2 linked regions of the Homo sapiens genome follow. The protein of the gene in region 1 purifies or fractionates together with the protein of each later gene. This does not show direct contact. Each region holds a gene or a part of one and is shown on either strand. Other genes may lie near its edges. The genes, in order: IPCEF1 and CCDC92.

What was found.
Region 2: the proteins of IPCEF1 (region 1) and CCDC92 purify together in Homo sapiens (affinity purification with mass spectrometry; one large-scale study listed by BioGRID and IntAct). This does not show direct contact.

What each region holds. Positions count from the first base shown.
Region 1 is NC_000006.12:154,346,496-154,350,313, forward strand, and holds part of IPCEF1 (interactor protein for cytohesin exchange factors 1), read right to left. Parts: intron 1-3,818. UniProt on the Homo sapiens protein: Enhances the promotion of guanine-nucleotide exchange by PSCD2 on ARF6 in a concentration-dependent manner.
Region 2 is NC_000012.12:123,945,308-123,949,125, reverse strand, and holds part of CCDC92 (coiled-coil domain-containing protein 92), read left to right. Parts: exon of another isoform or gene 1-3,422; intron 3,423-3,818.

The sequences.
Region 1 (3,818 bases):
TAATAATTAGAAAGAATGGATGGACTATCTGTATTAGTCCATTCTTATGCTGCTATGAAGAAATACCTGAGACTCGGTAATTTATAAAGGAAAGAGGTTTAATTGACTCACAGTTCTCTGCATGGCCAGGGAGGCCTCAAGAAACTTACAGTCATGGTGGAACGGGAAGCAAACATGTCCTTCTTCACATGGCAGCATGAGAGAGAAGTGCAGAGCAAAGCAAGGTAAAGCCTCTTATAAAACCATCAGATCTTGTGAGAACTCACTCACTATCATGAGAACAACATGAGGAACAGCCCCCATGGTCTAATCACCTCCCACAAGTTTCCTCCCCCAACACGTGGGGATTACAATTTGGATTACAGTTCAACGTAAGATTTGGGTGGCCAGACTCTATCCCTATCCAAGCATATCCTCTCAAAACTCTGCCTTCCTATTTTTTAATCTCTGTTTTCTTCCCCTTTTCAATCTATATTATTAGAAACAAATGCTCCATCACCCTCAACCCCAATTCTCCTCAGCTTTGATCTGGAAGTGTCTTTGGGAATGAGATTTTCCTCAAGGCTCAGGCAAATCTGGGCTGAGCACTCCTAAAATCATTATTCACCCAAACAGGCTTCCTCTGGCCTCTCTGGGGTTGGATTATACACATTCTCAGCTCCAGGAATGGAAAGGTGGACAAGCACAAAGCAACCTTATCCAAAAATAAGAAATTATGTAGCATCCTTTTCCTTATATTATAGTATATTCCCTCAGGACAGCTATATACTGGACGCTCAGGTCAAATAAGCCTAGGCTCAAATTCTGACCCCAGAGTCAAACTGCTGGGGTTGGAACCCTGACTGTACTATTTCTGGGTGACCTTGAGCCAGGTTTGAAGTTCCCTGAACCTGTGTTTTCTCATCAGAGAAAGGGAACTAGTTAATAATAACAGCACTTCCTAGAGCTATTTGATTAAAAAATTAGATAATGAATGTAAAGCCTTTAACACCGTCCCTTGCAGACAGCAAGAGGACAGTACATGTTACCTCCATGTGCCACACAGCCAGTGGGGCTGGGGAAGCCCTGCATGGCCTGTTGGAAAAGCTGCAATTATCAGGTTGGTGCAAAAGTAGTTGCAGGTTTTGCCATTAAAGACTACTTTTTCACCAGCCTATAGAAAGAAGGGGTCCTCTTGGACTCTATTTTCTGCCTTGCTCTAAGGCTCACCTCAGTGGCTCCTACTGCCCAGAAAGTTCCAGGCATTGCCTAGAATATTTCATAGGCCAGGAGCATCCATCCATTGGCAAAAGGCCACCTCCACAATGATAGGAAACGTGAGCTCGTGGGGAGTGGACAGTGGTTTGGTGCTCAATGCCTGAAGTCCATTGAGATTGACAGAGGGATCGCTTGCTAACTTGCTCCCAATGCACAGAACACAAAGAGGATGCAATGCCCGGTGGAAATTACTACACCCCATGTCTAGGACCCTGTGACTACAGCTAATGCCAACTTGAAAGCAAAGTCACTTCAAGGCAATCAGGAGTCGCTGAGCCTTCATTGCTCAGCCCACTTACTGTGTTTTGGTGACTCGGTGTCTCTCTCCCCGTGCTGGCTTCTCAGCTCAGAATATCTGGGACTCCAGCGTTCCTCTCAAGGCAACTAATTTGTACATAACTTTGGAATGTTTGTGAGTGTTCACAAAATAAAACTGAATAGTACTCGAGTGCCTGGCTCAAACCTTGCTCCACAGTCCCTCCCTCAAGTCCCCATTACCTACGCAAAAGCTGCTCTAGTTGATTAATCAAGTTGAAAATCCAAGTGTGGAAAACTCTGGTAGCTGTGTTCCAGAGTAAAATCCAGCTCTAGCTGGAAAACTGTGAGTGTATTTGACCAAGAGAGTTCAAGTTCAGGCACTTCTCTTTGATAGACTGGCTATAACTGAGTCTAACCAAGAGGCAATACTAATTCACACGATTCCAGGGGAATTTCAAAGGTGATCTTGTCCATTTAATTGCAGTGAAATACCTGGCACATTACGTGGAAAATATTAGGTACTCAATAAGTATTTGGTGAAGGTTGAATATTCGTAAGTGGGTCCTTATCATATTATATGGTCAGCATTCACAACCACTAGTAAGAACAACTGCTTGACTATTTTTTGTCAGGATGGAAAAAGAGGTTGGGATTTGTGCCTTAACAAGGAACCAGAAAATAAGGTCTTTAATATCATTTGCTTCAGGCTTTTAATCGGTGGAAAGAACAAAGTTGTTACAAATGACTTGCACTCCCAGCGAATAAACAGCAACGTTCCTGCAACAACCATTTAATCTATTAGAATAGTAGAATCTTCAAACATGTTCAAGAAATGGATGAGATTATATATATTCTCATCAGTCCATAAAACTATTACAGATTTATCCAATAGTGTGCTGTAGTCTGAGCTATTCAAACAGAATAATCATAAACAAGTAGCCTAAAATGCATGGTTTTCATGTTTACAGCCGTTTGCTTAGTTTTTCAAATAATTAAAGGTTTTCTCCTTCAAACATAACTTTGTATAAAGTACAGCTTATCTCTGGATAAACTGTGACACTTTACAAAGAATTATATTCTTTAGGAGTGAATAATGTTAAATTAAGGTTCCTGGGAAATGTTTTGAGTTGGTTTCATCTTTTTTCCTTTCTCAGAGGTTTGTATTATTTTATCTTATTATTATTATTATTATTATTATTGAGACAGGGTCACTCTCAGTCACCCTGGAATGAATGCAGTGGTGCGATCATTGCCTACTGCAACCTCAATCTCCCAGGCTCAAGTGATCCTCCTGCCTCCATCTCCTGAGTAGCTGAGACTACAGGCATGCTCTACCACACTTAACTAATTTTATTTTATTTTATTTTATTTTATTTTATTTATTTATTTATTTTAGTACAGACGAGGTCTTGCTATACGTTGCTTGGGCTGTTCTCAAACTCCTGAGCTCAAGTGATCTTTCCACCTCAGCCTCCCAAAGTGCTGGGTCAAATTCCTGATTTCAAGTGATCCTCACACCTCAGACTCCCAAAGTGCTGGGATTATAGGCATGAGCCACTGTGCCTGGCCTATTTTCCTGTTTTAGACTAAGGTTCAGTCTCTATTAATATATGTACATTTGCCTATAAGTAGTTAAATGTTCTATTCCTCTCTGGCGTTACAGATCAGTGCATAAAACTCTGAAGAATGCAGTTTCCTTCACAATAGTCAGGAAAAAAAGAACTTCTACCCTGTCCAAATTTGAAAAAATCTATCCAGTCACAGATTTCTACTGCATAGTTAGAAAAAGATTATATAAAATTAACAAGTCTAAAGAAAATTAAATATGGATCAATTAAGAGGAGGAGAAAAAAGATATTTTTAGTTTTACATAGATTAAATGTATTAGCTTCCTATAATGATATTTACCTGTTAAAAGAATGTTGTTCTGCTGGGGATAATCATGTAATAGGAATTAGGGTAATTCAAATTCTGCTGAAAAGGGGATTTAAGAGATTCTTATGTCACAGGGAAACTCAAGAATATGCTTGAAATCCTGGCTATTTATGCTGTCATTAAAGTACTTATGCAGGTACCAGCCTAAATTTATGGATCAAAGTGATCAACGATTACAGATGAACCACTAAAATGATCTAACATCCATTTATTGAGAAGTTTCCACTTGCTGTACACTTAAATTGCAGCCTTAGATTTTATATTTGGATCAAAGTTCCATCACATTGCATCATTTTCAGAATATTTGAACTTTTATTTCAATACAAACTGAGGTAAATAAATATCCCCCCCAAATAGACGCTGATGTT
Region 2 (3,818 bases), on another chromosome or scaffold:
TCTCCTTTCATCTGCCACGCTGACCCTTTTAGGGATCTGTCTTGAATGCTCCTTCATGTTTCTAAAGCATCTCTGATACTGAATTAAGCCTCTTGGGACCAACTCCATTTCTCCCTCTGAATTATGTGCATCTCCCGGCTGGGTCTCCTCAGCCTAAACAGGATGCCTCGGTGGCTTCAGTCATGTCACAGTACTGGGAGCATGACATCATCACAATGATTACCTCTCTTCAGTAGTGAAGGATCGCAATGGAAAACACCACTGTCTTTTCAGCCGTGAAAACTCTTTTGCCCTCAGAAAGCCAGTGATATTGTTACTCTTTTGAGCTGATGAGAAAATAATTGAGTAATCTGGATGCCATTTGGAGATGTGTTTTGTTTCCCTGGCCCCAAGTGGACCTGCCTTATTCAGGAATATCCTAACAGCTGTAGAATGCCCTGCACAGATGGCGTCTCCATGTCAGGGCCTTTTCAGTCAGCACAGAGTGTGGAAGAAGGGGAGAGCGACAGTCAGTGAAATGCCCCAGGCCAGGAGACCCTTGTCCCCCACTGTGAGGGCTCCGAGTGGCTCACCAGCGCTCACTGTGGAGCTCTGCGCGTTACATGGTCACACTCTCCCTGCTCGCCTGCCGTTTCTTCTCCAGGCTGTCTGCCCATTATAATGGGACGCTTTAAGGACGCTTTTGTATTTCTGCAGTTAACAGAGTGGATTAATGACACACAGCGTTGTTATAATTCAAAGTTGCTGATTGACCAAGGCAGTTAGAGTATGAATACTTACTAAATCATATTTAAATTTGTTACAAATGAAATGTAATACCACACTATGATAGAGATGGCTGCTGATAACATTTGTACTCCATTCCCCTCTGCCCCCGTGGGAGAGCGTAGAAGAAAATACTGACATCTACATATAGGCACATCCCATTTTGTGCCATCATGGCGGGTGAGGTGGTCATCTCATTTCGGGATGTTTTAGTATATCCCGTTTTCTTTGAGCAAGGTGTGCCTGTAAAGGAAGTGTGTCCGGAATTGGTGGGTTCTTGGTCTCACTGACTTCAAGAATGAAGCCGCAGACCCTCGCCGTGAGTGTTACAGCTCTTAAGGTGGCGCATCTGGAGTTTGTTCCTTCTGATGTTCGGATGTGTTCGGAGTTTCTTCCTTCTGGTGGGTTCGCGGTCTCACTGGCTCAGGAGTGAAGCTGCAGACCTTCGCAGTGAGTGTTACAGCTCATAAAAGCAGCGTGGACACAAAGAGTGAGCAGTAGCAAGATTTATTGCAAAGAGCGAAAGAACAAAGCTTCCACAGTGTGGAAGGGGACCCGAGCGGGTTGCCACTGCTGGCTCGGGCAGCCTGCTTTTATTTTCTTATCTGGCCCCACCCACATCCTGCTAATTGGTAGAGCCCAGTGGCCTGTTTTGACAGGGTGCTGATTGGTGTGTTTACAATCCCTGAGCTAGACACAAAGGTTCACCACCTCCCCATCAGATTAGTTAGATACAGAGTATCCACACAAAGGTTCTCCAAGGCCCCACCAGAGTAGCTAGATACAGAGTGTCGATTGGTGCATTCACAAACCCTGAGCTAGACACAGGGTGCTGATTGGTGTGTTTACAAACCTTGAGCTAGATACAGAGTGCCAATTGGTGTATTTACAATCCCTGAGCTAGACATAAAGGTTCCCCACGTCCCCACCAGACTCAGGAGCCCGGCTGGCTTCACCCAGTGGATCCCACACCGGGGCTGCAGGTGGAGCTGCCTGCCAGTCCCGCGCCGTACGTTTGCACTCCTCAGCCCTTGGGTGGTCGATGGGATTGGGCACCATGGAGCAGGGAGCGGCACTGGTCGGGGAGGCTCGGGCAGCACAGGAGCCCATGGAGTGGGTGGGAGGCTCAGGCATGGCAGGCTGCAGGTCCCGAGCCCTGCCCTGCGGGAAGGCAGCTAAGGCCTGGTGAGAAATTGAGTGCAGCGCTGGTGGGCTGGCACTGCTAGGGGACCCAGTACACCCTCTGCAGCTGCTGGCCTGGGTGCTAAGCCCCTCATTGCCCGGGGCCGGCAGGGCTGGCAGGGCCGGCCCGCTGGCTGCTCTGAGTGCGGGGCCCGCCAAGCCCACGCCCACCCAGAACTCCAGCTGGCCTGCAAGCGCCGCCGCACGCAGCCCCGGTTCTGCTTGCGCCTCTCCCTCCACACCTCCCTGCAAGCTGAGGGAGCGGGCTCCGGCCTTGGCCAGCCCAGAAAGGGGCTCCCACAGTGCAGCGGTGGGCTGAAGGGCTCCTCAAGTGCCGCCAAAGTGGGAGCCCAGGCAGAGGAGGTGCTGAGAGCAAGCGAGGGCTGTGAGGACTGCCAGCAGGCTGTCACTTCTCAGAAGCACCTAAATAGGAAGCCCATGGAAACAAAAGCTTTTCAACCCTGAAGCCCTTACATTCCTCTGGCACCACAGCTGCACTCAACAGACTGGCACCAGGCCCATTCGTGGGCCTCCAGGGTGCCAGGCACTGTGCTAGGGCTTAGGGTGCAGCAGTGAACAATCTGGAGTCTGTGCGAGGAGGCGGGAAACAGACCCACACTTACAGACCCTCACAGAGACACAAAGACTAGAACTGGGGACAGGGTGGTAATGCACCCGAGTCTGGGGGCCAGGGCTTCCGGGAGGAAGTAAACTTGTACTGAGACCTAAAGGATAAGTAGACAGTGGAGACCCAGGAGAGGTGGGTGGGAGAGAGGCCTAAGAAGAGTGTTCTGGGCAGAGGAGGAGCCATGAGAGGGCACCAGGGTGGGAGAAGCACAGCCCAGCAGGGCACCCGGAGGAAAGCTCGTGCCACCTGGAGCCCTGGGGGTAGGAGAAGGGCCAGCGAGGGTGGCGGGGCCAGTTGCAGGGCCGGGCAGACCAGTCTGATTCTCAGAGCAGTGGGAACCATTGGAGGTTTTTAAGTAGTCTCAATTTAAAAACAAGATCACTCTGCTGCCACGTGGAGAGCAGAATGGAGCAGGTAGGAGAGGACAGAGGGAGGCTTTCTGGCAGGGATTTGGGTGAGGGTGAGGACGGCCTCAGCAGCGGAGACGGGGAGAGTTGAACGGATCTGAGAGCTGCTTTCAAAGCAGGATGCCAGCAAGATCATCATGGACTGGAAATGGATGGCGGGGGATGCCAGCGTCAAGGCCACCCCCAGGTTGTGCAGCTGGGGACAGTGCTTGTGAGGGGTAGGACACTAGGCCTAGGGCAGCTCTCCTGTCATCCAAGACCCACTAAATTCTGGATCACATTTAAATGGTTCTTTCTCTTTGACAGCAAGCCACTAACATATGGGCTCTGCTTCTTCCATCAGCCAACAGAATCCTGGATTTGAGTCTGTCCTTTGAAAGCATCTCTGCTAGAGTTCCCACTTCCAAACCCCTTTCAGCTCTTCGGGATTCAGCCTCCAGGTGAGGTGCTGGAATTGATGCCAGAGTGAACGACTCCGGATTGCTGAGTGGAAGGAAAACGTAGGCACCGCTACTGACAGCTCTCAGGCGCTCCTGGGATTTTCCTTCCTTTGACGCTGAGGCTGTTCCGCTTTCAAGCGTTCTGCTTTGTGAGGGAAGGGCAAGGTCAGAAGGTGCTCACCCTTTCCACAGCAAGCACGCGGCACACGTGTGCCACACGCTGAACCTGCCTTGGTTGTAGCTGGCTCCTTTGTTAAGGTCAGCGCCCCCCAAGACCACGTGCTGTGCAGACAGTGTTGGGATCTCGGGAACTGTGGGGTTCCACTTAGAAACTAGTGTCTGGCCCAGCAGCCTACACAGGAGAGTTTGCGGTTACAGCACAGAGACGGTTTCGGG